6 linked regions of the Homo sapiens genome follow. The main gene of each other region encodes a partner of the protein of the gene in region 4 in a complex. Each region holds a gene or a part of one and is shown on either strand. Other genes may lie near its edges. The genes, in order: ARID1A, PHF10, DPF3, SMARCC2, ACTL6B and SMARCD1.

The links.
Region 1: SMARCC2 (region 4) and ARID1A share a complex: the UniProt entries of both Homo sapiens proteins name them as parts of the neuron-specific chromatin remodeling complex.
Region 2: SMARCC2 (region 4) and PHF10 share a complex: the UniProt entries of both Homo sapiens proteins name them as parts of the neural progenitors-specific chromatin remodeling complex.
Region 3: SMARCC2 (region 4) and DPF3 share a complex: the UniProt entries of both Homo sapiens proteins name them as parts of the BAF complex.
Region 5: SMARCC2 (region 4) and ACTL6B share a complex: the UniProt entries of both Homo sapiens proteins name them as parts of the BAF complex.
Region 6: SMARCC2 (region 4) and SMARCD1 share a complex: the UniProt entries of both Homo sapiens proteins name them as parts of the BAF complex.

The regions. Positions count from the first base shown.
Region 1 is NC_000001.11:26,772,209-26,776,910, forward strand, and holds part of ARID1A (AT-rich interactive domain-containing protein 1A), read left to right. Parts: intron 1-291; coding exon 292-424; intron 425-603; coding exon 604-779; intron 780-1,137; coding exon 1,138-1,288; intron 1,289-1,371; coding exon 1,372-1,509; intron 1,510-1,593; coding exon 1,594-1,690; intron 1,691-2,120; coding exon 2,121-3,012; intron 3,013-3,368; coding exon 3,369-3,499; intron 3,500-4,702. UniProt on the Homo sapiens protein: Involved in transcriptional activation and repression of select genes by chromatin remodeling (alteration of DNA-nucleosome topology).
Region 2 is NC_000006.12:169,710,566-169,715,267, forward strand, and holds part of PHF10 (PHD finger protein 10), read right to left. Parts: intron 4,278-4,702; coding exon 4,168-4,277; intron 1,975-4,167; coding exon 1,821-1,974; intron 1-1,820. UniProt on the Homo sapiens protein: Involved in transcription activity regulation by chromatin remodeling. Belongs to the neural progenitors-specific chromatin remodeling complex (npBAF complex) and is required for the proliferation of neural progenitors.
Region 3 is NC_000014.9:72,768,047-72,772,748, forward strand, and holds part of DPF3 (zinc finger protein DPF3), read right to left. Parts: intron 3,848-4,702; coding exon 3,687-3,847; intron 1-3,686. UniProt on the Homo sapiens protein: Belongs to the neuron-specific chromatin remodeling complex (nBAF complex).
Region 4 is NC_000012.12:56,168,772-56,173,473, reverse strand, and holds part of SMARCC2 (SWI/SNF complex subunit SMARCC2), read left to right. Parts: intron 1-444; coding exon 445-537; intron 538-769; coding exon 770-889; intron 890-983; coding exon 984-1,046; intron 1,047-1,536; coding exon 1,537-1,795; intron 1,796-2,041; coding exon 2,042-2,203; intron 2,204-3,265; coding exon 3,266-3,330; intron 3,331-3,562; coding exon 3,563-3,698; intron 3,699-3,778; coding exon 3,779-3,945; intron 3,946-4,702. UniProt on the Homo sapiens protein: Involved in transcriptional activation and repression of select genes by chromatin remodeling (alteration of DNA-nucleosome topology).
Region 5 is NC_000007.14:100,653,308-100,658,693, forward strand, and holds the start of ACTL6B (actin-like protein 6B), read right to left. Parts: upstream 3,142-5,386; 5' UTR 3,048-3,141; coding exon 3,023-3,047; intron 2,573-3,022; coding exon 2,496-2,572; intron 2,280-2,495; coding exon 2,114-2,279; intron 1,813-2,113; coding exon 1,712-1,812; intron 1-1,711. UniProt on the Homo sapiens protein: Involved in transcriptional activation and repression of select genes by chromatin remodeling (alteration of DNA-nucleosome topology).
Region 6 is NC_000012.12:50,094,478-50,098,612, reverse strand, and holds part of SMARCD1 (SWI/SNF-related matrix-associated actin-dependent regulator of chromatin subfamily D member 1), read right to left. Parts: coding exon 4,041-4,135; intron 1,764-4,040; coding exon 1,641-1,763; intron 1-1,640. UniProt on the Homo sapiens protein: Involved in transcriptional activation and repression of select genes by chromatin remodeling (alteration of DNA-nucleosome topology).

The sequences.
Region 1 (4,702 bases), on a different chromosome or scaffold from region 4:
AAGAGAAATAGCCAGGGAAGCTGGCAATGACTCAGGGAATCACCAGCATGGTGATGTCATGGCCACATCACTCCTCTTTTCTACACGTAAAACAAAAACAAAGAGCTACAAAACCCTCAGATTCCCGTCTTTATGACCTGGCCTTGTAGATCCTCTGCTAAGAAGGGTGATCAGGCTTTAAAGGCCTTAGGAAGAACTTTCCCAAAGAGATTCTGGGTCGTTCGTGTGTTTGTGTGAGAGTTAAACACTGTCATGCCAAGCAAACTACTCAACTTGTATCTCTGTCCACAGCGGGATCAGGATCTATGCAGGGGCCCCAGACTCCCCAGTCAACCAGCAGTTCCATGGCAGAAGGAGGAGACTTAAAGCCACCAACTCCAGCATCCACACCACACAGTCAGATCCCCCCATTGCCAGGCATGAGGTAAGGCCAAGAGCAGGGGCAGATGGTTGGGAGGATGGCTGAAGATAAGTGCATGGGAACTCCTTGCAGCCCAAGGTGGTCCTTGCCTCTGCCTTCCCAGCCAGTGACTCCTGCGTGTCCTTTGTTATATTGGAGGAATTGGTTTATTTGTGGTTTACTTGGTTTTCCTCACTCTGGAGCAGGAGCAATTCAGTTGGGATCCAGGATGCCTTTAATGATGGAAGTGACTCCACATTCCAGAAGCGGAATTCCATGACTCCAAACCCTGGGTATCAGCCCAGTATGAATACCTCTGACATGATGGGGCGCATGTCCTATGAGCCAAATAAGGATCCTTATGGCAGCATGAGGAAAGGTGACTGATCTGATTGCTATTTGAACTTGTGCTCGTAAAGACAGGGCCAGTGAAATGGGGGGAAATCTTGAGAATGGCTCAGGGTTCTTGTGGAGCCATCCTCTGAGATAATGCATTTCCTGCCCTAACTACCCCTCTTCATCCTTACCTCCTTTCTTGTCTTCTCCTTGGCTTCACCTTGTCATCCCTTAATAAGTACATGCTTTTCGCTGGTTGGGGCCTCTTTAGATCTCTGTTTTGAACTTGTCTGGAAAACAATGAGATCAAACCTGAACTCTGAAGAGGGCCTGGGTCAAAGGGTAGATTACCAGGCTTGTCAACTTACCAGTTTGTTCACCGCTTGCCTTTCTACGCTCAGCTCCAGGGAGTGATCCCTTCATGTCCTCAGGGCAGGGCCCCAACGGCGGGATGGGTGACCCCTACAGTCGTGCTGCCGGCCCTGGGCTAGGAAATGTGGCGATGGGACCACGACAGCACTATCCCTATGGAGGTCCTTATGACAGAGTGAGGTAAGCATGACCCCAGCTCCTGTCCACTCCCCCAGCACCCTGAAGCTATAGTGGGCTCAATCTGCCTCTCCAATTTTGTTTAGGACGGAGCCTGGAATAGGGCCTGAGGGAAACATGAGCACTGGGGCCCCACAGCCGAATCTCATGCCTTCCAACCCAGACTCGGGGATGTATTCTCCTAGCCGCTACCCCCCGCAGCAGCAGCAGCAGCAGCAGCAACGGTGAGTAAAGCCTGGTCTCGGTGCTGCTATGGATCAGGCTTCGCCACTGCCCACCCTAATCCTGTGTTTCTTTGCCTCCTATAGACATGATTCCTATGGCAATCAGTTCTCCACCCAAGGCACCCCTTCTGGCAGCCCCTTCCCCAGCCAGCAGACTACAATGTATCAACAGCAACAGCAGGTGAGGAGGGTAGCTGGGAATGGACTGGCATGCAGGTTCGCCTTGAAAACTAGTTAGTAAACTAATCTAACGTGTTGAAGTCTAAGAAGCTCACTTTAGATATTTTGGCATTCTTCTCTCACCTGACTGGCCAGTCCTGCCTGAAGAGCCACGTCCTCAATCTCTTCTCTATTTGGAGTTGGAAGGGGCTAGAAATAGACCTTATTTTGATTTTTAGGTTTTGTATATTTTTCTACTTAAGCAAGGGAAGGGAAGAAAGAGTGGTGGTTGCTTTTGGAAACAACTTCAAAAGACAATTTGTTAAGGTGATTCCCATGTTTTCTTGGAGTCTGTGTCCACCAAGCATCTGGTTGTAGCCATCTTGGCATCTGTGGGCTTTATGTCCCTGAGTGCAGAGTATTAACTTCCCCTCTGCTTGTCTCTGCCTTAGAATTACAAGCGGCCAATGGATGGCACATATGGCCCTCCTGCCAAGCGGCACGAAGGGGAGATGTACAGCGTGCCATACAGCACTGGGCAGGGGCAGCCTCAGCAGCAGCAGTTGCCCCCAGCCCAGCCCCAGCCTGCCAGCCAGCAACAAGCTGCCCAGCCTTCCCCTCAGCAAGATGTATACAACCAGTATGGCAATGCCTATCCTGCCACTGCCACAGCTGCTACTGAGCGCCGACCAGCAGGCGGCCCCCAGAACCAATTTCCATTCCAGTTTGGCCGAGACCGTGTCTCTGCACCCCCTGGCACCAATGCCCAGCAAAACATGCCACCACAAATGATGGGCGGCCCCATACAGGCATCAGCTGAGGTTGCTCAGCAAGGCACCATGTGGCAGGGGCGTAATGACATGACCTATAATTATGCCAACAGGCAGAGCACGGGCTCTGCCCCCCAGGGCCCCGCCTATCATGGCGTGAACCGAACAGATGAAATGCTGCACACAGATCAGAGGGCCAACCACGAAGGCTCGTGGCCTTCCCATGGCACACGCCAGCCCCCATATGGTCCCTCTGCCCCTGTGCCCCCCATGACAAGGCCCCCTCCATCTAACTACCAGCCCCCACCAAGCATGCAGAATCACATTCCTCAGGTATCCAGCCCTGCTCCCCTGCCCCGGCCAATGGAGAACCGCACCTCTCCTAGCAAGTCTCCATTCCTGCACTCTGGGATGAAAATGCAGAAGGCAGGTCCCCCAGTACCTGCCTCGCACATAGCACCTGCCCCTGTGCAGCCCCCCATGATTCGGCGGGATATCACCTTCCCACCTGGCTCTGTTGAAGCCACACAGCCTGTGTTGAAGCAGAGGAGGCGGCTCACAATGAAAGACATTGGTAAGGAGATCTTCCTCATTCGGTTGCCTAATCTGCCCCTTTCCATCTTGTCCATTGTTCCCTCCACCTTACTATTCTGGATGAGGTTGAATCTGGTCCAGTGTTGACTAAAATAGAACCAAAGAACTTTGGAAAAGGAAGAAATAAGCTAACTAAAGGTTCTCCTTCATTGCCATGCAATGAAGTCCTAGACAGACAGCTTAGAAGCCATGAGGGGCTGGTGTGTTTCATCTCCCAGACAGAAACTGCCTTCCACCTTGTGTTATCTTCAGAGTAGCTTCACTGATGGGGCAGCCCTAGGGGTGCCTCCAGCCAACCTGGGCTTGGTGGATAGACGACATGGAGGTTTATTTCAGGAACCCCGGAGGCATGGCGGGTAATGATGTCCCTCAAGTCTGGTCTCCTGGCAGAGAGCACATGGGCATTAGATACCATCAACATCCTGCTGTATGATGACAACAGCATCATGACCTTCAACCTCAGTCAGGTGAGTATCAGTGCCTGGGGAAGATTGAGAGGGTTTGGGATCTTCTTAGTGTAGACAATGGGAATGTCTCATCTTTAGCCACCTTGGTCTTTCTCTTTCTCTCTTGTAGATATCTTCCATGCCAGTACTTTGCTTCCTTTGCCTCTGGGCACGGGCCCAGGATTTTGACAGCAATAATAATTTGTTTACATGATAACCTTAACACAGGATTGACTTCAAAAGGAATTTGGGAGACACTTTGTGGTATTAGTAAGAATTCAGATTCAATCGATGCCAGTGGGGACACCACATTTTCTAGAAGAATCTGTGTTTTTTTGTTTTTTTAATAGAGACGAGGTCTCACTATGTTGCCGAGGTTCATGAACTCCTGAGTTCAAGTGATCCTCCCAAAGTGCTAGGATTACAGGCATGAGCCACCAGGCCCAGCCTGAATCTGTGGTCAAATTTTTATCAGTGAGCAGAGTATGTTTTTTCCATTTTTCCCTTTCTTCTCTGAACAGTAGGGGCCTTTGTTGATCCCAGTTTTCCTTAGATGTAGAGTGGATGGGGGATTTGATTGTTTAACAATATTCTTTTTTTTTTTTTTTTGACTGAGTCTCTCTGTCGCCCAGGCTGGAGTGCAGTGGCGCTATCACAGCTCACTGCAACTTCCGCCTCCTGGGTACATGCCATTCTCCTGCCTCAGCCTCCCAAGTAGCTGGGACTACAGGCGCCCGCCACCACGCTCGGCTAATTTTTTGTATTTTTAGTAGAGACGGGGTTTCACCGTGTTAGCCAGGATGGTCTCGATCTCCTGACCTCGTGATCCAGCCGCCTCAGCCTCCCAAAGTGCTGGGATTACAGGCGTGAGCAACCGCGCCCGGCCCTACAATATTCTTACAAAGCTGATTCTTCAGACCCACCCTCCATAGGATGTGCACACTAGTGGAGGTGCTGGAAAGAGTTTGTGCTGCATCATCCTACTCTTTTTCTTTTGATCATCTTTAGTACCTACCAACCTGTATATCAAGGAGCTGACTTATTAATAGTTACCATTTATCGTGCTCTTATTTTGTGCCAGGTCCTTAATATTTTGTTTCATGTCATCCTAGCAACAGCCCTCAGAGGTAGGAGGTATGGCCATTTAGGGATGAGTAAATAGGCTCAGTCTTATCCTTGTTGAGGTTCACATAGCTGTCAGTAGAATCTATCTGATTCCTAAGC
Region 2 (4,702 bases), on a different chromosome or scaffold from region 4:
GTTAAAAATCATTCCTCCTTCTTCTAAGTATATTATATAAAACTGATTCCATATCAGTGCCTTCATCAACTTTGTTTTCTGACATAAGTCACAAAAACACAATTATCCGCTTCAGCTACTATTACGGCACACAGCTTCAACATCATTTTCCGTCACAAGGGAACATATTTGTTTCATACAAAAATATATTGTTACAAATAAGTGTGGGTATTTTCACTGAGTACTAAAAGTCATTAAGAAGGTCCTTCAGGAAAAATGAAGCGCTGCAGTTAGGAAAAAAAAAAAAAAGTCCTTCAAGTACACATTTGTGTTTTCACAATGTTAAACTATGCAGAGCCAATCCCTCAACTATCTACAACAGGATCTGAAATATTTTATATATTCAAGGTTTAAGACCTCAGTATCTGATCATTTAATTCTTCATTTTATAATTTAAAATGTTCTAATTAGAACTTTCATATAAATTACAAAAATTATAAATTAAAAAATTAGGTTATCTAGAGCCTCCCTGATAAACACACACTGACTAGAAACATGAATGTATCTACTTTATCTTTTTTCTGGGTGTCCACTTATATACATAAAGATACCGAGACTCACACATTACCCCCTACCTCATTGTGCCCTCATTTTTTAAAATACAAAACTGGATTACACTGTGTGTGTATGCATATGTGTATTTTGGTATTTTTTAAAAGCATTATGTGCATTTTCTCACAATCATTAAATATTCTTTGAACTGCATTTCTATCCTATAAATGTAATATAATATTACCCACTGTGGGCATTAAAATTTATTTGTAACTTCCAGCATAAAAAATACTGTCAACACTCAAATGGACCTTTTTTTCTAATTAAAATTTTTCAGCATCTGATTAAATCCTTAGGATAAATTCTACTAGTGGATTTGCTAGGTCAAATACTATGGAACTTAAATTGGTAAGACTGTCAAAATGCTTTCCCATAATGTTGGATTAGTTTACACTTTTCCTAGCAGTATGAAAGGAAGTCAGCTTCATCACCCTTTGCATGCCATAGCTCCCCTTTTAGCAACATGACAGGAGAAAAGTTGTGTCACCACTTTAATACTTGAACAGTATCTTATTTTGCATAATATGTATTATTAAAGATGTTTTAGAAGCTGTTGGTGACAAGGAAATAATGTCCATTCAATGGTAGCACAATCTCACATTTACATTGGCTTCAATGAAAAGTTTGAAATAGCCAGTTACTTAAAACACAATGCTAAAGAAATTCAAAGCCCTATGTCATCACTGGGATCAAAGCCCCAAACCATCATTGGGATTTTATTCTCCTTCAGGTGCACAGAATACACCAACTGCCCACTGTCTTGCAGGTGCATTTTGCTACAAAAAAAAAAGTCATACAGGAAAACCCAACAAATTGTACAACATATTACTAAACATAATATTTTCCTATAGGAAGCATAAGATTAAGCAAATGCACTCCCCTCAACTAAGAAAACTACATTTCTGTGTCAAGAGATCAAATTCTGTTTTGTTCAATATTTTAAGCTAAAGAGACAGCAAGTTGAATAAATGATTGTAAGCTAATTTTCCATACCCTTGCCTAAACTGCTCATGGTAACTACAAAGGGGCGATTTTAAGCATAAAGCTTACCAAAGGCCATTCACTGCTTGTTTTTATCAAAACATACTATAAGTAACTTTTATTGATGAATACTTTCTGGAAATTACATGCAACCATCCTTTTTCAAGGAGAGGGTGATGACAGAAATTCAATGTAACAAAAATTCAAAGAGAAAGGAAATGCTTCCTACTAGAGAGAAATGTTCTCACCGAAGTGCCTTTATTTTTCCGTTTCTCATCACCTCGACCATCTTCGCCATCATCTGAATCACCATCACTGTCTAGAGCAGGGAGCTCAGGATCCAGAGGGGGCTCATACAGGGCTGTGTTTAATGGCAGATACCGCAGCTCATCTGGTGAGTACCTGAAGTTCAGAGAGTTTATTTTTGGTTTCCCTTTATTATTAAATATAAACAGACTCATCTTTGACCTATGAAGATAGCCTTAAACTTCTTGAGTAACCCCGAAGACTTTTGAAAACTAGAGTACTAATTTTTCATTTTTGTCATCAAGTAGGGTTAATAAAAAGCCTGAACATCTTTTCACTAGACTTATGTAAAATATGCATTTGATTCTTACTAAGAGATAATGTGCCTCCCCTCTTTGCCCTCAACCCAAAAAAAGAAAAAAGTAAATAAAATGTCAGCAGCCCCAAGTCTGGCTGCCAGCTCACATCCACCTCGACCACTGTCCCAGGTCTTTGCTACTTCTCTGTGCTGTCACTCCATTTGTAAAACAGACCTAATAATAGCATCTACCGCATACAGTTGATATATATGCATTAACTTATTTAATGCATACATATCACACCAGTGCATGGTACATGATATTACTTAAAATAATAACATAGAAAGCAAAATTTTTAGTAACCAATTATTGTAAACAAATTTGGGAAGCATGTATTCTAACAAATTTAATCATCTATTTTGTCTGAAACTATATTGGCAATCTCTTCCCCTAGGTCAGACAGCACTGCTTCGTGCCACCTCCATTCTCACCCTCAGTAGCCCCCATTCAGGAGGCAACCCTAGATGAAGACTTCTCCAACTAAGACAACACACCAAAAAGCAAAGGGGTTAATATACTTGCATATGACTTTTAATAATTTGCTGATGCCAAAATAAAATTTTTAAAAATTAAAGGCCGGGTGCAGTGGCTCACGCCTATAATCCCAGCATTTCGGGAGGCCAAGGTGGGCAGATCACCTGAGGTCAGGAGTTCGAGACCAGCCTGGCCAACATGGTGAAACCCCGTCTCTACTAAATATACAGAAAATTAGCTGGGCAAGGTGGCGGGCACCTGTAATCCCAGCTACTCGGGAAGCTGAAGCAGGAGAATCACTTGAACCAGGAGGCAGAGGTTGCAGTGAGCCGAGATCGCGCCACTGCACTCCAGCCTGGGCGACAGCGTGAGACTCCATCTCAAAAAAAAAAAAAAAAAATTTGAAGAAAAACTTTTAAAAAATTGCTGCTCATGATTTAAATTTGAATTTAAAAAATCTTTTTTTATTTAAAAAATTTCTGCCCAAGATTTGACTTTCAAATGGTGTGAGTTATGATACTATATTTTAAATTCTATTCTCTAAAAAATAGTATATTATGAAAAACATACGGTTCCAGAGTAAGGCTTAAGGTTGAAGTAAAAGCTGAGACTTTAAAACAAAATGGGCTGGGCACAGTGGCTCACACCTTTAATCCGAGTACTTTGGGAGGCCAAGGTGGGCGGATCACTAGGTCAAGAGATCAAGAGCATCCTGGCCAACATGGTAAAACCCACCTCTACCAAAAATACAAATAATTAGCTGGGCGTGGTGGCATGTGCCTGCAGTCCCGCTATTTGGGAGGCTGAGGCAGGAGAATCACTTGAACACAGGAGGCAGAGGTTGCAGTGAGCCGAAATCACACTACCACACTCCATCCTGGGTACAGAGCAAGACTGTCTCAAAAAAAAAAAAAAGAATCTGTTAGCCCTGTTTTTTTCAGTTACATTTAATTTGGGAATAGGAGATAAGTAACATTTAGGGTCCATATTGGAGCAGCAGCCAGGCCAGGTCAGCAATGTGGCTGGGGCACCCAGTTGCCCATGCCTGCCCCTCTCCGCTCCTTCTCTCATCTTCTCTGCAGTAAAAGTCAGTGTTTCTCAAACTCTAACCTGCACATGAATCACACAGACATCTGTTAAAATGCAGACTCTGAGTCATAGGTCTAGAGTTGGGCCTGAGATTCTGCATTTCCAACAAGCTTCTGAGCAATAACAGTGCTTTGGACCACGGAACATACCCTGAGCAGTGAGGTGCTACAGAACCCCCAGCATCTGTCTCTAACAAACCCAAACAGAATGGGCAGAGACAGAGGCATCTAGACTTCACCAGCATATATTCAAATTCTGACTACAGGGTATTGTTTACCACAGAACCAGAGAAGAATAGCAACACAAATCCTATACGATATCTTACGGTGATATCTATAGACCCCAAAATTGTTAGGAGGCAAGTACAAAAGGCTCTGAAACCCCTTACCAATAGCCGATACCAACTGTAACTAAAACTACTAAATACCTCTTATAATATTCCTGGAACTGTCCGGGGATGAGAGCCACTGGGTAAGAACTGACCTTTGTTCGCTCTGTTGGCAAAACTTTGTACTTCCCTTGAGGTACCTGGATAACCTACGTTAACATAAAGAGAAACACAAAACTGATTCCATGCTAAGAATCAAGGCTTTAGGAAGAGTCCCCACGTGCTCACCACTGCACGCCCACTTCCCCCTCGAAAAGCTAAAATTTTAGGAGATATCAGGAGCTATAACCTAAGAGGACAGTTGGTGCTTTCAGTTCTATATATTATTGTTTTAAAGGCCTATTCTCCTGAGGAATGGCAGTGGATCTCTTGCTCACTACTTAACAGCAGAGTGATCTGGGTAGCTTATACGACCTCTCTGTAGCTCAATTTCTTTATGAAATGGAAGTAATCCTAGTTCCAACCTCACATGGTTACTATGAGAATTAACATGCAAATCTCTTAAAAACTCTTGGGACGCACAGCAAGTATGATATGTAGCTATTATTAGTCTCATTTAGAATTATTAACCGTA
Region 3 (4,702 bases), on a different chromosome or scaffold from region 4:
AGCAAAAATATCCTCCAGGAATGATGGCAAAATCAAGACATTCTCCACTGAAGGAAAACTAAGAAGTTGTTACCATCAGATTTACTCTAAAAGAATGGCTAAAGAAAGTACTACATCAGAAAGTAAATGCTAAAAGAAGGAATCTTGGAACTTCAGTAAGTAAGAAAAACAACGAAGGAGTAAAAATATGAGTAAATACAATAAACGCTTCTCTTACGTTTTCTAAATTATGTTTGATGGTTGAAGTAAAAATTATAACACTGGTATGGTTTTCAATGTATGTAAAGGAAATGCTTAAGACAACTATATTATAAAGGGAGGAGGGTAAAAGGATTTAAATAATGAGTGTTGGGTGGTAATAGAATAGTTTTGTATCTTGATTGTAGAAGTGGTTACACAAATCTAGACATGTGATAAAATGGCATAAAGCTACATATACACATTTTACCAATGTCAGTTTTTTGGTTTTGATATTGTAAGATGTATTAATCTTGGAGGAAATTGGATGAAGAAGATAGGGGATCTCTATTATATTTGCAACTGCAAATTGCAAATACAGTCACAATTGCAATTATTAATTATTTCAAGATAAAAGTTGATTTAATAAAGAAGAAATTATATGAATCCCCTCCCCACTCAAAAAGCAAACCCTGATAAGTGAAAGCAAAATGAAACAAATAAATCCAACTGTGTATTGAGTTAGTGGCACAATCACACAGAGGAACTATCTCAGTGACCTTAAAGGAGAGTAATTTGGCTGCACATGTTTAATGGAATATACCCTAAGGACAAAAAGACTTGCAAAAAAAAGAAAATATCTTAAACCTTTTTCAGTAATCTTATTGTTAATAGTCATATTGTTTGTTCTGATACTGTGTGTGAGTGTCTGTGTGTGTGTGTGTGTGTGTGTGTGTGTGTGTGTGTGTAAAATAAAGCAAATAAGTAATTACATCAATATCATTTCTAGGATTTTTTGGTGTAGGAGAAAGGAGATACAGAATTAAGATACTTAAGTAAAAACTGTTTAAATCTAAATTGAATGGGATGTATCAACATAATTTCATAATGTATTTTCTCTTAAAAAGAAAAAGAAAAAAACAAATGAATACTATTTCTTAGTTCTAGTCACTGATAAGGCCTAGAAACAATGACCAAGCCAGGAGCAATGAACAGCACTGCGGTCTCTAAGTAACTTTTCCTACAAACAGGAGCCAGGATTTCTTCAAGAAATAGCTGATTTCAGTCCTGGAGAGGAGGAAGTGTACAGGATGAGCTTGAAATATTTCATCCTAATATTAGGATGGCAAGAAGGCCATCAGAAACTACTGGGGTTGTTTCAAAACACCAGCACTGGGCCGGGCACGGTGGCTTACGCCTGTAATCCCAGAACTTTGGGAGGCCGAGGCAGGCGGATCATGAGGTCAAGAGATCAAGACAATCCTGGCCAACATGGTGAAACCCCATCTCTGCTAAAAATACAAAAATTAGCTGGGTGTGGTGGCATGTGCCTGTAGTCCCAGCTACTCGGGAGGCTGAGGCAGGAGAATCGCTTGAACCCGGGAGGCAGAGGTTGCAGTGAGCCGAGATCATGCCACTGCACTCCAGCCTGGCTACTGAGTGAGACTCCATCTCAAAAAAAAAAAAAAAAAAAAACACATCAGCACTGGCCAGAATCCTGAATGGCCAGAGATGAGGCAAGATAAGCCTCATAAGAATAATAGCTACACTGGATTAAAATACATCAAATATGTTTAAATCTGTGAGTTCCTGGTGGTATTCAAAAAAATAATTATTATTATATTGATCGTCTTTGGAGAATGCTAGGGAACCAACTCATTATTTTGAAAACTGGTAAATAGAGGGGAAAAAAGTCATTTATCCTGCCTTTCATATGTGAACTGTATCTCACAATAACTAAAATTTTAATGAGGGAATGTTTTTCTTTATAGAAGTTGTAGAGCTAACAAATGAAGATATAATGATAGTCCTGGATTGAATATTAACTTTTTGCAACCCTTAATGGGATAAAGAATCTAGGCAATTATCATGAAGGGCTGCTAACATCAGTAAAAGAGGTAACCAGACTGTATGAGCCTCTTGATGAAAGTACACACTACCACTCAGGAGTTGTTCTTACCAAAAAAAAATGGAACCTGAATAAATCTCTAGACCTAACTACCAATTCACAGTAATAACACCATGGGAACGCAACCAAATCCTTCTGGGAAACCCTACAGCGTAAGCAACCCAGTGTCTTCAACAAGTAACATGCAAGGAGGAAAGAGAGAGAGGCAGAGACAGAGAGAAACCCAGAGATGTTAAAAGACACATTAACCAGTTGCAATGTAGGGTTCCCATTTGGATCCTGATTTAAACTACAGGGGGAAAAATGAATGTTGGCCAAATATTTGATGATATTAAAGTCTTATTGCTAATTATTTGAGCTCTGATAGTGATTGTGAGTGTGTTTGTTTGTTTAAGTTCTTTACCATTTAGAGATACATAACAAAATATTTACAGATGAAATCACGTGCTTTTGTGGATTTGCTTCAAAATAAAATGAGGTCAGGGAGAAAAGTAAGGAGTGCGTATAGATGAAACACGATTGACCATGAGTTGAACATTGTTGAAGCAGGGCTACATGGGGATGTGTTTTACTATTGTCTTCAGTTTTATATGAAGGTGAAATTTTTCCAAATGAAACATTTTTAAAAACATATCCAGGCAGAGCCAGAAAAATCACATTCCTGTAGCTGTCTCCCTAATAAAAAGGTCTTTATTCTGTTCTTTGCAGCCTAGAAGACTAGTGTCACTGTAGCTGTAGTAATAACAGTAATATCAATAATAATAGGCCAGGTGCAGTGGCTCACGCCTGTAATCCCAGCACTATGGGAGGCCCAGGCAGGCAGATCATGAGATCAGGAGTTCGAGACAGCCTGACCAACATGGTGAAACCCCGTCTCTACTAAAAATACAAAAACTAGCTGGGTGTGGTGGCGCACGCCTGTAATCCCAGCGACTCAGGAGGCTGAAGCATGAGAATCACTTGAACCCGGGAGGCGGTGAGTCGAGATCGCACCACTGCACTCCAGCCTGGGCAACACAGCAAGAGTCCATCTCAAAAAAAAAAAAATAACAATAATAATAATAATACCCAGCATTTTGGAAGCACATACTTGCTATGTGCTAAACTCATTTAAGAGTTTTTATAAATTTTCTCATTTAATTCAGACGAAATCTTATGTGGTAAGTACTATTATTATTCACATTTTACAGATGAGGAACCTGAGGGACAGAAGTTTGGTGACAAAGGTAAGCCTCACACCCAGATCTAATGGCAGATTTCCGGCTTGTAACCAACACCCAAAGGTAAAAGATGAAGATTGCTGTCATGTCCTCAGTCTTGCCTTCTTTGGGATAAACACCTTTAGCTCTTTCACTCCCCACCCCACCCCACCCCTGCCACATGGCTTCAATGCCCCACACCATCCTTGTCACATTCCTTGAAACACCTGCCAGGAGCCATAAAAGTAGCTGAGCTTCTTTAAGGTATCTCAGAGGCCCATGTGCAGCTTGCCCCACCCCGATCCTACCCAGGCTGCCTGGTTTCCCAGACAAGCTGCGGTCCTCCTCCCTCCAGGCTGGGAGCCTGCACATGCGCATGTCCCAGGAGTGGCGCAGCTCACCTGGGCCTCGGTGCCTCTTCTCCATCCAGATGTAGCAGTTGTTCTGGGCCACCCCAGTCTGTGAGTCCAGGAAGGGAAGACGCACGCTGCGCTCTGCACACAGCCGTGAGTTGTAACTCCGGCAGTGCTCAATGGCTTCCTTGTAGAACTGGTCCCCGAGCCTGCCAGAGTCAGAGAGTGAAGGGGTGAGGCCAGGGAAGACTGAAACACACCCAGAGGGAAACACACCCAGAGGGAAACACACCTCCCTGGAAAGACTGAAGACCTCCCAGTTATGAAGACCAAGGCAATGAGCACCAAGAGCCTTGCCAATGAGCAGAATGCAACTCAATGTCAGGTCTTGACTAGATTTTATTTTCTATCCCAAATCCACCAGGCAACTTAGAAACTCCTTTAACAAAGAGCATGGGCTTCCAAGGATGAATCACCAGTAAGAGAGAGCTGTCCATGTTCTAGGAAGCATGAGGTCCCACTCCAGAAGGGAAGTAGCTCTGGAACAACCTTCTGCATGGAATCTAGAGGACATCACACTTCTAGAACCTCCTCACTCATATTAGCTACATTTTATTCTCAGAGGTCACCAGCAAAGGCACTCTAGGTGAACCCAAATCACCAGCAAAGATACTCAGTTTTCCATTACAACAGAAGAGAAACACTCCATATAAACAAAAACTAGGACAGAAAAAACATTCTATAAAAGTAGGGAAATTGCAGGAAGAAGGGGGTGTAGAGGAACAGGCACCAATCTTTTAAAACCATATTACTTAAAGAAAAATAACTTTCCGATAGAAAACAAACAGAATTCAACAATTTTAAATTCAAAATAATTCAACTCATGGAGTTTAAAAAACAAATAGAAAGACCTTTCTGGTTTGCTAGACTGAGAATCTGATTAAGCACAGTATATTTTACGTTCCTGACTCTTTGGTATTTTTGGACACGTGGTGATGCTACTAATTTTAAGGTAGTGTCCTTTTCAAAGACCAAAAATGGAGCATTGATATAATTGATCAAAT
Region 4 (4,702 bases):
CTCAAGGAGTAGACAGGCTAATGTAGGGGAGTCAATAGAGAAAAATGGCTTAAAATTAACTTGCATGAAATTTTTAAACTTTGTCATCTTTGCCACATTTTTTCATTTTTGCCTCATAATTATCATCTTCATTTTTTTTTCCATTTCCACTTCATCCATTACAAAAATTAGGAAGAAGGTTATGTGGCTTGCCCAAGGTCACAGAGTACCAAATCTAGGATTAGAACCTAATTGTCCAGCTCCTAAGAGAACCTATAAAGATAATGTGAATATGTATGGATATCATGCCAACGACATGTCTTATTAATCATGAAGGGAACATGGAACAGTGGCATGAGTGCCCCCAGAGCTTGTGGGCCGCCCAGCATATGGTCTTGAGGCCTCCAGGGCCTTGGCCTGGTCATTTCCTGCCCAGCCTCCATGACGCCAAGCTCTGTCCCCCAGGGCCGCCAGGTTGATGCTGATACCAAGGCTGGGCGAAAGGGCAAAGAGCTGGATGACCTGGTGCCAGAGACGGCTAAGGGCAAGCCAGAGCTGGTAGGTGGGGTGCAGACCCTGCTGGGCTGCTCATTTTCCCCTTTATTGGGGGGCCCCTGCCCGGGAAGAAGAGACATGAGAGCAGAGGAACTACAGCAGTAAGGGAGGAAGTCCCACCCAGGGGTGTCCCTGGCTTTGGGAAAGAAGCTCCTTCTGTCTGTTTTTTCTCTCTGTCAGCCCCTGGCTCCCGGTGGTCACTTGTACTCACCTGTTTCTTTCCCTCCACAAATAGCAGACCTCTGCTTCCCAACAAATGCTCAACTTTCCTGACAAAGGCAAAGAGAAACCAACAGACATGCAAAACTTTGGGCTGCGCACAGACATGTACACAAAAAAGAATGTTCCCTCCAAGGTAGGAGGTGCGGGCCGACTCTAGGGGTAGAGAATGTTCGCTCCTCAGAGGTCACAGGCTCCTTTCTTCTCACCTGCCTGTGTTTCCCCTGCAGAGCAAGGCTGCAGCCAGTGCCACTCGTGAGTGGACAGAACAGGAAACCCTGCTTCTCCTGGAGGTAATTGGGGCAAAGAAAAGAGAGTTTTTCTCTGAAAACAGAAGTGGGCTCCGTGTAGAGGCTCACGCCTGTAATCCCAGCACTTTGGGAGGCCAAGGCAGGAGGATCACTTGAGTCCAGGAGTTCGAGATGAACCTGGGCAACATAGTGAGACTCCGTCTCTACGAAAAATTTTAAAAATTAGCCAGGTGTGGTGGCACACACCTGTGGTCCCAGCTACTCAGGAGGCTAAGTGGGAGGATTGCTTGAGCCTAGGAGGTCAAGGCTCCAGTGAGCTTCAGGACCAGCTCCAGGCTGGGGATTTGGGCCATTTCATTAACTTCATATCCTTTCTTAGTGCTACTTCAAGATCCCCCTTGGACCTAGCAGAGTACACAAATACCAGAACATAGAGAACTTTGAAACCAGCTGCCCTTAGTAGGATGGGGGGAGTCAGCCTTCGAGAAAAGTGGCTAAGTAAGCGGAGTTATGTCTCCACCACTACCACCAGGCACTGGAAATGTACAAAGATGACTGGAACAAAGTGTCCGAGCATGTGGGAAGCCGCACACAGGACGAGTGCATCTTGCATTTTCTTCGTCTTCCCATTGAAGACCCATACCTGGAGGACTCAGAGGCCTCCCTAGGCCCCCTGGCCTACCAACCCATCCCCTTCAGTCAGTCGGGCAACCCTGTTATGAGCACTGTTGCCTTCCTGGCCTCTGTCGTCGATCCCCGAGTCGCCTCTGCTGCTGCAAAGTCAGCCCTAGGTAATGGGGGTGGGTGGTTCCACCTGGCCTTCTTAGTTTGCTTTTGAAGGGCTAGTTACTCAGACTGTGAATCCTCTCAAGTTTGGCTGCCCTGCTGGCCTTGTCTGTGCGGGCCTCAGCTCAGGCACCTGTCTAGGCTCCATACTAGCTTAGATGAAGACATGGGCTTGTGAGTAAGCTTTTGCAGGGATTGCCAGAACTGTTCCACTGTGCCGCTCCCAGCCTCATTCTTTCTGGGTCTTGCAGAGGAGTTCTCCAAAATGAAGGAAGAGGTACCCACGGCCTTGGTGGAGGCCCATGTTCGAAAAGTGGAAGAAGCAGCCAAAGTAACAGGCAAGGCGGACCCTGCCTTCGGTCTGGAAAGCAGTGGCATTGCAGGAACCACCTCTGATGAGCCTGAGCGGATTGGTAAGGCCAGGCAGGTTCCCAGATTTCTTGCCTTTCACAAGATCCAGAGCTACCTGGCCTCCTGTGCCATTTCTGCCTCAAGTTGGCATTAGAGCACAACATGAATGAGAACATTGGTAGGGTTTTTATTTTCCCCATGAGTTTACCTCAGGGGCTCTGGAGCCCTACTAGTCCTCTCATGAAGATTTTGGGTAGAAAAATCTTTGCTTGTAGAAGGGGCTGTTAGAAAAGTCTTGTGAAGGCCGGGCGCAGTGGCTCATGCCTGTAATCTCAGCACTTTGGGAGGCCGAGGTGGGTGGATCACGAGGTCGGGAGTTCAAGACCAGCCTGGCCAAGATGCTGAAACCCTGTCTCTACTAAATATACAAAAATTAGCTGGGCGTGGTGGCACGTGCCTGTAATCCCAGCTACTTCAGAGGCTGAGGCAGGAGAATCACTTAAACCTGGGTGCCAGAGGTTGCAGTGAGCCAAGATCAAGCCACTGCACTCCAGCCTGGGCAACAGAGCAAGACTTCGTCTCTCAAAAAAAAAAAAAAAAAAAAAAAAGTCTTGTGAAGGCTGGGTGCAGTGGCTCATGCCTGTAATCCCAGTACTTTGGGAGGCTGAGGTGGGCAGATGGTTTGAGACCAGTCTGGGCAACATGGCAAAATCCCGTCTCTACAAAAAATACCAAAAAAGTTAGCCAGGCATGGTGGCATGCGCCTGTAGCCCCAGATACACAGGAGGCTGAGGTGAGAGAACCACTTGAGCCTGGGAAGTCAAGGCTGCAGTGAGCCATGATTGTGCTACTGCACTCCAGCCTGGGCGACAAGAGTGAGACCCTGTCACAAAAAAACAAAAAACAAAAAAAAACAGGTGTTATGGAGAAGCTGGGTGCAACGGCTCACACCCATAGTCCAAGCTGCTCAGGAGGCTGAGGTGGGAGGATTGCGTGGGCCCAGGAGTTTGAGACCAACCTGGGCAACACAGCAAGACCCTGTCTCTAAAAAAAAAGAAAAGTGTTAGACACAGACGACTGTGTATTAAACATTTCCTGTTTTCTTTCTTTTCTCATGGGCCCAGAGGAGAGCGGGAATGACGAGGCTCGGGTGGAAGGCCAGGCCACAGATGAGAAGAAGGAGCCCAAGGTATAGAGGGATTTCTGGAAGCTGCAGGGGCTGCGTGCAGCACTGTGGTGATGGGGAAGTTGGCCTTGTTCAGCTTAGGTGGGCAAGGGCTGGTTTTGGACGGGGTTGTCTCCTAGAATCAGATCACCTCCAAAGTAAGAGGAATAAATTTAGTTCCCCGTCTGGCCCCTCTGTGTGAGAACTAATCACCCTAATCCCTGATAACTCTCCTTTTCTATCACTGGAATTTCAGGAACCCCGAGAAGGAGGGGGTGCTATAGAGGAGGAAGCAAAAGAGAAAACCAGCGAGGCTCCCAAGAAGGATGAGGAGAAAGGGAAAGAAGGCGACAGTGAGAAGGAGTCCGAGAAGAGTGATGGAGACCCAATAGGTGAGCCTCCCACAAGGGTAGGTGGGGGTGCAGGACAGAGGTGAAGCTGTGGGGCTAACTCAACCCTTGTCCTGGCCCAGTCGATCCTGAGAAGGAGAAGGAGCCAAAGGAAGGGCAGGAGGAAGTGCTGAAGGAAGTGGTGGAGTCTGAGGGGGAAAGGAAGACAAAGGTGGAGCGGGACATTGGCGAGGGCAACCTCTCCACCGCTGCTGCCGCCGCCCTGGCCGCCGCCGCAGTGAAAGCTAAGGTGAGGCCAGACCTTGAAGACCTCAGGGAAGAAAATGTCCACTTCTCTAATCTCATCTCACTTAGAGGAAATCTTTCCTCACTCACACCTTAAATAATGCTGACCTATTTATTTTTTATTTTTATCTCAGGAGGAGGTAAAGTTAGTCATCCCTTCTCTAAGCTTTAAAAAATATATCACCATTGGGCCTGTTTTCAACCCTGTCAGTATTTGACTCCATGTTACCCTTTGCCACACTATCTCCATGTTCTTCTTTTGAGACGGAGTCTTGCTCTGTCAGATCTCGGCTCACTGCAGCCTCCACCTCCCAAGTTCAAGTGATTCTCCTGCCTCAGCCTCCCGAGTAGCTGGGACTACAGGCGTGCTACACCACGCCTGGCTAACTCTTTGTATTTTTAGTAGAGATGGGGTTTCACCATGTTGGCCAGGCTGGTCTTGAACTCCTAACCTCAGGTGATCCACCCGCTTTGGCCTCCCAAACTGCTGGAATTACAGGCGTGAGCCACCGTGCCCAGCCTCCATGCTTGTTTATTTATTTATGTATTTTTTGAGATGGAGTCTCACTCTGTTGCCCAGGCTGGAGTGCAGTGGCACAATCTCGGCTCACTGCAACCTCCACCTCCCAGGTTCAAGCGATTCTCCCACCTCAGCCTCCCAAGTAGCTAGGATTACAGGCACGTGCCAGCATGCCCGGTTAATTTTTGTATTTTTAGCAGAGATGGGGTTTCACCCTGTTGCCCCAGGCTGGTCTCAAACT
Region 5 (5,386 bases), on a different chromosome or scaffold from region 4:
TAATTTAAAAAGAATGTAAATACTGAATACTGATTTCTTTTAAAGTCTAAAATACAACTGGGCTGGGTGTGGTGGATCTCGCCTGTAATCCCAGCCTTTTGGGAGGCCGAGGCGGGCAGATTGCTTGAGCCCAGGAATTCAAGACCAGCCTGGACAACATGATGAAACCCTGTCTCTAAAAAAAATTTAAAAATCAGCTGGGCATGGTGGCTTATGCCTGTAGTTCCAGCTACTCTGGAGACTGAAATGAGAGGATCACTTGAGCCCAGGAGACCAAGGCTGAAGAATTGTGCCACTGCAATCCAACCTGGGTGACAAACTGAGCAGACCCCCTGTTTTTGAGGCAAAGTCTCAAAAACAAACAACAAACAAAACCCCAAACAACAACAACAACAACAACAAAACCCACTGTACTTAAAGGAGGGTGATAAGAAATACGTGTGGCATAGGCTGGGGAGGAAAAGAGAGCTAAGCGATCATTTTCTAAAGTGGAAAATTCAGCGATAATACCTAAAACTAAACACTCCACAGGCAGCAATTTAAGTGTAGTATTAGAGATATGGAAGAAAATACCCCCAACATTAGCTAAAAAGGAGAAAAACAGTTGCTTTTATAAAGAGGAATTTATAAGGAGGTGGGTAAGAACATTTTTTTAAATGAGGTTTTAAATTTTTTTTTTTTTTGAGACAGAGTCTCGCTCTGTTGCCCAGGCTGGAGTGCAGTGGTGCGATCTCAGCTCACTGCAAGCTCCGCCTCCCGGGTTCACGCCATTCTCCTGCCTCAGCCTCCCGAGTAGCTGGGACTACAGGTGCCCGCCACCATGCCTGGCTAATTTTTTGTATTTTTAGTAGAGATGGGGTTTCACCGTGTTATCCAGGATGGTCTTGATCTCTTGACCTCGTGATCCACCCGCCTCGGCCTCCCAAAGTGCTGGGATTACAGGCGTGAGCCACCACACCCGGCAAAAAATTTTTAATTTTTATTGTTTTAATAAAAGAGACGGGTCTTGCCATATTGCCTAGGGTGGTCTCAAACTCCTGGGCTCAAGTGATCCTCCTGCCTTGGCTTCCCAAAGTGTTGGGATTACAGGTGTGAGCCAACATCCCCAGCTCACCAAAGTTGACCATAATAATAATAATAATAATAATAATAATAATAATAATAAGTGAAAAGGTCAAAAAAGGACTTGGAGGCTGGGCGTGGTGCCTCATGCCTGTAATCCCAACACTTTGGGAGGCCAAGGCGGGTGGATCACCTGAGGTCAGGAGTTCGAGACCAGCCTGGCCAACAAGGCGAAACCCCCTGTCTACTAAAAATACAAAAAATTAGCCAGGCGTGGTGGCGGGTGCCTGTAATCCCAGATACTCAGGAGGCTGAGGCAGGAGATTCCTTTGATGTCGGGAGGCAGAGGCTGAGATCTCACCATTGCACTCCAGCCTGGGTGACGGAGTGAGACTGTGTCAAAAAAAAAAAATTTAAAAAGGACTTGGAGACAGAGAAGGGCAGCAGAGTGCATAGAGCAAGAAGAGAGCAGGAGGGATGGAGACTTAGCCAAGAAGGAAGGAAATTGTTTGGGATGGGTGAGGGGAGTCTGAAAAGGGAAGGGAAGTGGCTCAGAGCAGTGGCTTGAGGGGAGAGGAGGAGAGGTGGATGGTGGGAAGGAGGTGCAGTGGAGATCAGGGTTGGACATGAGGATGGAGGAGGCACTCACCGGAGCCTCGGACATGAGCACTGGGTGCAGGTTTGGCTCAGACTTGACGTGTTTGCTGTAGGTGTGATCCAGGATGGCTCGGAAGCACTCCCAGTCCTCGACTGGGGCCAGAAGAGCAGCGTGCAGAGACGCAAGAAGGCAGGCAGGGGACAGGGACAGGAAGAAAAGGAGGGAGAAAGGCCAAGCCCAAAGGAGGGTCAGTGAGTCCAGCTCCAGGGGAACGCCCCCCTTCCCAGAAACCTGGTGGGCCCCTGGGAAGGGAACCCAGCGAGAAGAACCCTGGCAGCCAGAAGAACCCTGGGGCTGCAAGGAAGACTCCGCGGGGAGTGGGGGCTGCTATGACCCAGATTGTGGGGAGCGGGCTCCTTTTCTGTCAGGAGGTGATGGGTGGGGGCCCCTTACTCATGCCATTCTTGAGGGGCGACATGACCTCCGCTCCATCCCGAGGCACGTGCAGGGCATTGGTGTCGATGTGGAAGATCTTCCCTTTCTTCTCTTTGTCCCCCTCCAGCTCCAGCCCGCCCCCCTCCTCCGCGGCCAGCAGCCCCACTGTGGTGGGGAAGTCAGCCTGGTGGGGAAGGGTTGGGGGAGTATTGGCAGGGAGAGAGGTCACCCTCTTGCCCCTGTCCAGCCCCACAGCAGGGTCCTCAGACCGCCCCTGGGTTTATTCCCATATTCCCGCTCAGCAGAGCTTCTGGGCGATCTGGGAGAGCCCTGGGTCACTGGAAAGCCTGAAGAAGGGTCCGAAGCCCCTAGGATTTGGAGAGGAGACTGGAAGGCTCACCTTGGGACAGTCCTCCCCAGCGTACCCAGCGCGGACTGAGAAGGAGCCAATGTCAAAGACCAGCGCCCCCACCTCATCTGTGCGGGGAGACAGGCCTGTAAGGGGACCTCCCCCGAACTCTCTCCCGCTAGGTAGCTCCGAGAGAAAGTCAGGGCAGAGCCACAGTCTCGCCACTTTCAACACCAGTCTGGGGCCGGTGGGAGCTGGGCCTGGAGTCCGAGGTCCTGGGACTGGGGGTGGGGGCATCACACCGCCAGGGTCCCTTCTTGCCCAATGGCCTTGCTCAGGGCACCCTCCCGACGGGAAAGGAAGGGGCCCGGGGCCAGGTGGAGGTGGGTTGCAAGGTAGGGCCCTGTGCGCGCGGGGCGTCTGGGGAGGACCGAGCGCAGGGGTGGCGGGAGACCCGAGCCTGAGACTCGACCCGCTCGTGCGCGGAGGTGACAGGCCCCGGGGTGCCCAGAGCTCGGATGGATGGCGCGGGTTTGGAACGCAGGGCTGCGGGAGCCGGGGGCCCGAGGCTCGCTCACCTCCGCCGTAGACGCCCCCGCTCATAGTGCCCGCTGCGCTGCTAGCGGCCCGTGGGCGGTGGCGGGATCAGCACCGAGGCGGCCGGACAGCTCCCGGGATCCCTGGCGGGGCGGGACTCTCAGCGGCCAATTGGGAGGCCGGATCCCCCGCTCCAACGGCGCCGCCGATTGGCTGCCAGGCGAGACAATGACCGACCGGGGGCAGCTGCTTTAAAGGGGAAGATACACTCTATTAAGCGGCCAGGAGGAGATGGGGCAGGGGGCACCTAGCAGGGACTTAGAGACCGTCGCTAAGGAACTGGCGGCAGAGAGGAGAGCAGGGAAGAGGCGGAGACCAGGACTCTGCAGGACGACTGATGAGGTCCCTATCCCCTTGCTTTTTATTTTTATTTTTATTTTTATGGTAGAGACGGAGGTCTTGTGATGTTGCCCAGGCTGGTCTCGAACTCCTGAGCTCAAGCGATCCTCCTCAGCCTCCCAAGTAGCTGGGATTACAGGCAGGTGCCAGCACGCCTGGATTAAAAAAAAATTTTTTATAGAGACGGGGTCTTGCTCTTTTGCCCAGGTTGATCTCGAAGTCCTGGCCTCAAGCGATCCTCCCACCTCAGCCTCTCGAAATGCCAGAATTACAGGCGTGAGCCACTGCGCCCGACCTCTACCCCCTTACTTTTTAAAGCAGGATTGGGGAGAGAGGTCCAGTTCCCAGAAGGGTTATCTATCTTCAGGCTGCTCTGAGCCCGGTTCTGCCACACCCAGGCCTAAATGGAATCACCAAGGTCTAAATGGAATCACCGGGAGAGGGAGGGAAGGGAAGATTGAGAGAGGGACCAAAGGGGGTGTGTCTCCATCTCTCTCTGTTTTTACCTTTTTTTTTTTTTTAAGAGACTGGGTCTTGCTACCTTGCCCAGGCTGGTCTTGAACTCCTGGCCTCAAAGTCCCAAAGTGCTGGGATTAAAAGCATGAGCCACCGTGTCCAACTTCCCTCCTTTGTCTTTCGTTGGCCCCTTTTTTCCTTGCCTTGCTTTCCCCCCCACCCCCCGCAGTACCTAGGCCTTATACATGTGTACACATGCTTACACATGTGTACATACGTTCACACACAGGCATTCAGCCCATCTGGCTTTAGCTTCCTTTCTCCATCTGTCTCTCTTCAGCGCCTGTTCTCCTGAGGAGGCATTTATCAACAAGAGGGTTTTTGTTTCTTTTCTTTTTGAGTTAGGGTCTTCCGTCACCCAGGCTGGAGTGCAGTGGCACACTTATAGCTCACTGTAACCTTGAACTCCTGGGTTCAAGTGATCCTCTCGCCTCAGCCTCCTGAGTAGCTGGGACTTACAGGTGCACACCACCACACCTGGCTTTTTTTTTTTTTTTTTTTTTTTTAAGAAAAAACTATGTTGCCCAGTCTGGTCTCGAACTCCTGGCCTCAAGTGATCCTCCCACTTTGGCTTCCTCAGTCACTGGGATTACAGGTGTCAGCCACAGCGCCTGGCTAACAACAGGGTTTTCTACTGCTTGGATCCCAGGTTCTTCTGGGCTCCCAGTACCACAGTTTTGGTAGCAAAGGCAAAGGAGCAGCTCTGACAACTTGGGGTAGGTGAGGGACTCTTATGTGAGGGTGTGTGTGTGTCTGTATGTATGTGTCTATGTGTGTTGGCATATGGGTGCATGTGTGTACATATGCACATCTGAATGCTTGTGTGTGTTGACTATGCCCATCTACTTGTTTGGGGGCGAGGGAGCTTTGAGACCAGAGATAGCACAGGAAGTGGATACTATGTGAGGTCCGCGTGCCCCTGAAGGTTCTCTGCTCACCACATGCCCACCCTGGAAGAGACTCCACCCCTCCCCGGCCAAAGGACAGATGGCTTTAGCTGGCTCATGGATTACCTACTGACGACGGTGGCATTTCAATGCCTAGGGTTGGTTCCAAGTTCAGACTTGGCTTCTAAGACTGAAAGGGTCCAGGTTTCAGCAGGAGTGGTGAGCTGTAGGGGAGAGGGCCGACTCAGGAGCTGGGAGAGTGAGATTTTTCCAAAGTGACCCTAGGTCAGTCCATTGAGGTCTGGAAGAATTGAGTGGATCTCTTAAAGTGCTTACATTTCTTTTTTTCTTTTTGAGCTGGAGTCTCACTCTGTTGCCCAGGCTGGAGTGCAATGGCGCAATCTCAACTCACTGCAACATCTGCCTCCTGGGTTTAAACAATTCTTCTGCCTCAGCCTCCCAAGTAGCTGGGGTTATAGGTGTGTGCCACCACTCCTGGCTAGTTTTATTATTAGTAGTAGTAGTAGTAGTAGAGACGGGGTTTCACCATGTTGGCCAGGCTGGTCTCAAACTCCTGATCTCAAATGAACGGCCCACCTCTGC
Region 6 (4,135 bases), 6.1 Mb from region 4:
GTTGAAGTCTAACCAACCCCTAGTACCTGTGAATGTGACCTTATTTGGAAATAGGGTCTCTACAGATGCTCAAGTTAAGATGAGGTCATTAGAGTACCCCCTAATATGACCGGTAGGTTCCCTTATAAAGAGGGGAAATTTAGACATGGAGACAGACACATACAGAAGGAAGACAACGTGAAGTCACACAGAGACCACCACCTACAAGCCAAGGAATGCCTGAGGTACCAGAAGCTGAGAGATGCACAGAACAGAGTCTCCCTCCCAGCTCGCGGAAGGAAGCAGTGCTGCCCACACTGATTTTGGACTTCCAGCCTCCACAACTGTGAGACAAGCCTGTTGTTTGAAACTGCCCAGTTTGTGGTAGTTTGCTACAGCAGCCTCAGCAAACTGATACAACACCCAGTCACCTCTGCAATCAACAAGTCGTTGCCTTGTTCAGGGATCTTTCCTGGCATCCCTTTTTCCTTGCTCCTCTGCTCAGCCTCTCTAACTCGTCACAGTCAGCACAGGAGGGGTGACAACGGATGAGTTCATACTCTGTGCCCATTCCTATCTTCTTGTCTGAGCTTACTGTGCTCCCCTTTCTGGGAACGTCTTCAAATCCCAAATTTTCCATGAAGCCTTCCCCAGAGATTCTAGTCTCACTGATCTCCCTTATCTGAATCATCTTATTGGTCCTGGTCAGTCTAATAATGTCTTTTTTTTTTTTTTTTTTTTTGAGATGGAGTCTCACTCTGTCAGCCAGGCTGGGAGTGCAGTGGCGCAATCTCGGCTCACTGCAGCCTCTACCTCCCAGGTTCAAGCGATTCTCCTGCCTCAGCCTCCTGGGTAGCTGGGATTACAGGCACCCGCCACCACGCCTGGCTGATTTTTTTATTTTAGTAGAGATGGGGTTTCACCATGTTGGCCAGGCTAGTCTCAAACTCCTGACCTCAGGTGATCTGCCCTCCTCAGCCTCCCAAAGTGCTGGGATTACAGGCGTGAGCCACCGCACCTGGCCTGATAATGTCTTATGTGGTTTACTACTTTGTATCATACTAGCCTAGTTTCTTTTTTTTGAGACAGAGTTTCGCTCTGTCACCCAGGCTGGAGTGCAGCGGCACGATCTTGGCTCACTGCAACCTCTGCTTCCTGGGTTCAAGCAATTCTCCTGCCTTAGCCTCCCAAGTAGCTGGGATTACAGGCGCGCACCACCACGCCCAGCTAAGTTTTTGTATTTTTAGTGGAGACGGGGTTTCGCCATGTTGGCCAGGCTGGTCTCAAACTCCTGACCTCAAGCGATCCGTCGGCCTCGGCCTCCCAAAGTGCTGGGATTACAGGTGTGAGCCACCATGCCCGGCTATACTAGCCTAGTTTCTTCAGACAGAATGTAGGCTGCTTTGAAAGCAGAGATCAGGTCTTCCACTCTGTATCCCTGACAAGATGAAGCACAGTGACAGACAAAGTAAGCACTAAATCAACACTTGATGGCTCTGCCCCCATTTCCCTGCTTAATTGCAAAATGGACCCTGGAACATGCTAAAGAAAAATCTGGCCCCTCACTCCTTCCTCTGGGTCTCCTACCAGCTGCTACATGAATAAAGCAGCTGTGCACCTCACTGACCTAAGTCCCTTCAGACCTCTCCTAGGTTCTTTACCTTGAGGTCCCTGCACTGGGACTGAAGCCAGTCATTGATGAAACCCTGAGGGTCTCTGGCAAAGCTCAGCATGAACTCCCGCTGAGTCTTCAGCTGGTTGATGGTTTCTATTGTCTCATGGATCTGAAAGGAAGAACGAAGCTCATACCATTTTCAAACTAGAAAAATGAGAAGTTAAATGGCAGGTGGTGCCTGACAACTCCACATGCCACTTCCAACCTAGTCACCATGCTGCCCACAGCTGGCACCATCATATAGAGCTCCAACTGCTCCGACCCTTGGCATTCTTTCAGCAAGTAATTTGCCCTTGTTTCTGTCTCTCTGTATACCCCATGTGAGGAAAGCTTTCCTTTTGGTCTCCACATTGCCCACTATGGGCAAAGCTACATGATGAATACTTACTCCACAGCACAAATGGGTCCAAAAGTGTTCTCAGGAAGAAAAGGACTGGCATATGGGGCTGTCTCATAAGCTCTCATCTCTGGGTTTTGTTCTCAACTCTCTTCTCATTCTGCATACTCCTCCCGGCAATTTCTTTGACTTGTATATCTTCCATTACCAGTGACAGGGTAATGAGTCCCCAGTCTGCAGCCCAGAGTCTATCTTCTATACTCCAACCAATCCAACTGCTTAAACTTGACATTAAACTCACTACCGTTTCTCCAATACCTGCTCCTCCTCCTCCCCTCTTCCCAGTCATAGTAAATACTACTGTCCACCCAAGCTAGAGACCTGGGAGGCATCATAACATTTCCTTCTCATTCATCCCTCACTCTAATAATCCAAACAGTGGCCAAATTCCTTCAATTCCACCTTGACACCTCTCAAATCTATCTACTTATCTCCACCCTCACTGTCGGGACTGTAAATTTAGGGCCTCAACACGTCTCACATGGATTACTGCACCAGCCTCCTAACTGGGCTTCCTGCCTCCAGCCCTGCCCTCTTGACAAATTATTCTCCATCCACCTTCCTGCAAGTGATCATTCTATATACAAATAGCATCAGTCCCTCCACTGGTAATGATCTCTCAACCAGCTGTCTTACACAGTCTTCGGGATGAAACATAAACCAGTTTTCCCTGAATCAAAGGTTCTTCATAATTAGGCATCTGGCTCCCTATCTAGCTTTCCTTCCCAAAACATCCCGTCCTCGGCACTCTATGCTGCATCTAGCATACTAAATGGCTCGTACTTCTTTAAGACACCAGGCTCTCTCTCTCTTCTCTGGACCTTTACATGCCCTATTCCCTCTTTCTGGAACGTCTTCTGCCTCCTATGCCCCCAGCACTACTATCCTTTTTGCCCTTTCATTAACACCCACTTTGTCCTTCAAGATTTAGTTGGGGCCGGGCGCGGTGGCTCACGCCTGTGATCCCAGCACTTTGGGAGGCCGAAGCGGGTGGATCACCTGAGGTCAGGAGTTCAAGACCAGCCTGACCAATATGGTGAAACTCCGTCTCTACTAAAAATACAAAAATTAGCCGGGCGTAGTGGCAGGTGCCTGTAGTCCCAGCTACTCAGGAGGCTGAGACAGGAGAATTGCTTGAACCCAGGAGGCGGAGGTCGTAGTGAGCCAAGATCATGCCATTGCACTCCAGCCTGAGCGGCAGAGCAAGACTCCATCTCAAAAAAAAAAAAGAAAAGATTTAGTTGGGGCATCAACTCTTCCAGCAAAGCCTCCCTTTCTCCTTCATGTTCCCAAAGCACTTTTGGCTTTATTTGCAAGGACTGCGTCTAGTAATAACAACCCAGATAACAATAATAGTAGCAGAAGTTACCATTTGTTGTTTTTATGTGCCAGATACAGTCTCAAGTCTTTACACACACTCCCTCATTTAATCGTCATAGCAACCTGATTAAAATAGGTACTATGGGCTGGGCGTGGTGGCTCACGCCTGTAATCCCAGTACTTTGGGAGGCTGAGGCGGGCAGATCACTTGAGGTCAGGAGTTGGAGACCAGCCTGGCCAACATGGTGAAACCTCGTCTCTACTAAAAATACAAAAATCAGCCGGGTGTGATGGTGGGTGACTGTAATCCCAGCTACTTGGGAGGCTGAGGCAGGAGAATCGCTTGAACCCAGGAAGTGGAGGTTGCCGTGAGGCGGGATTGCACCACTGCACTCCAGCCTGGGCGAGAGAGCGAGACTCCTGAAAAGAAAAAAGGAAAAAAAAGGTACTATGGTCTCTATTCCACAAATCAGAAACCGAGGCTCAGTGCTGTTGAGAGTATCCCCACAATCAGAATTCATTTGAGTCTGGCTCAAACCAGCACCAAGCACAGTACCTGACATATACTGGGTGTCACCGTATTTTGAATGAACACTAAGAATCAAAAGGAGGCCTTGAAGCTGTGATAGGGGCTGGTGGTACCCAACTATCCAGGGCACAGACCCCTACCTTGTTGTCTAGAGTAGCAATCTCCTGTTGGCTGGCAGTGGACAGCAGAAAAGAATTCATCTGGGTCTTCAAGGTGTCATCCACTTCAACATCAA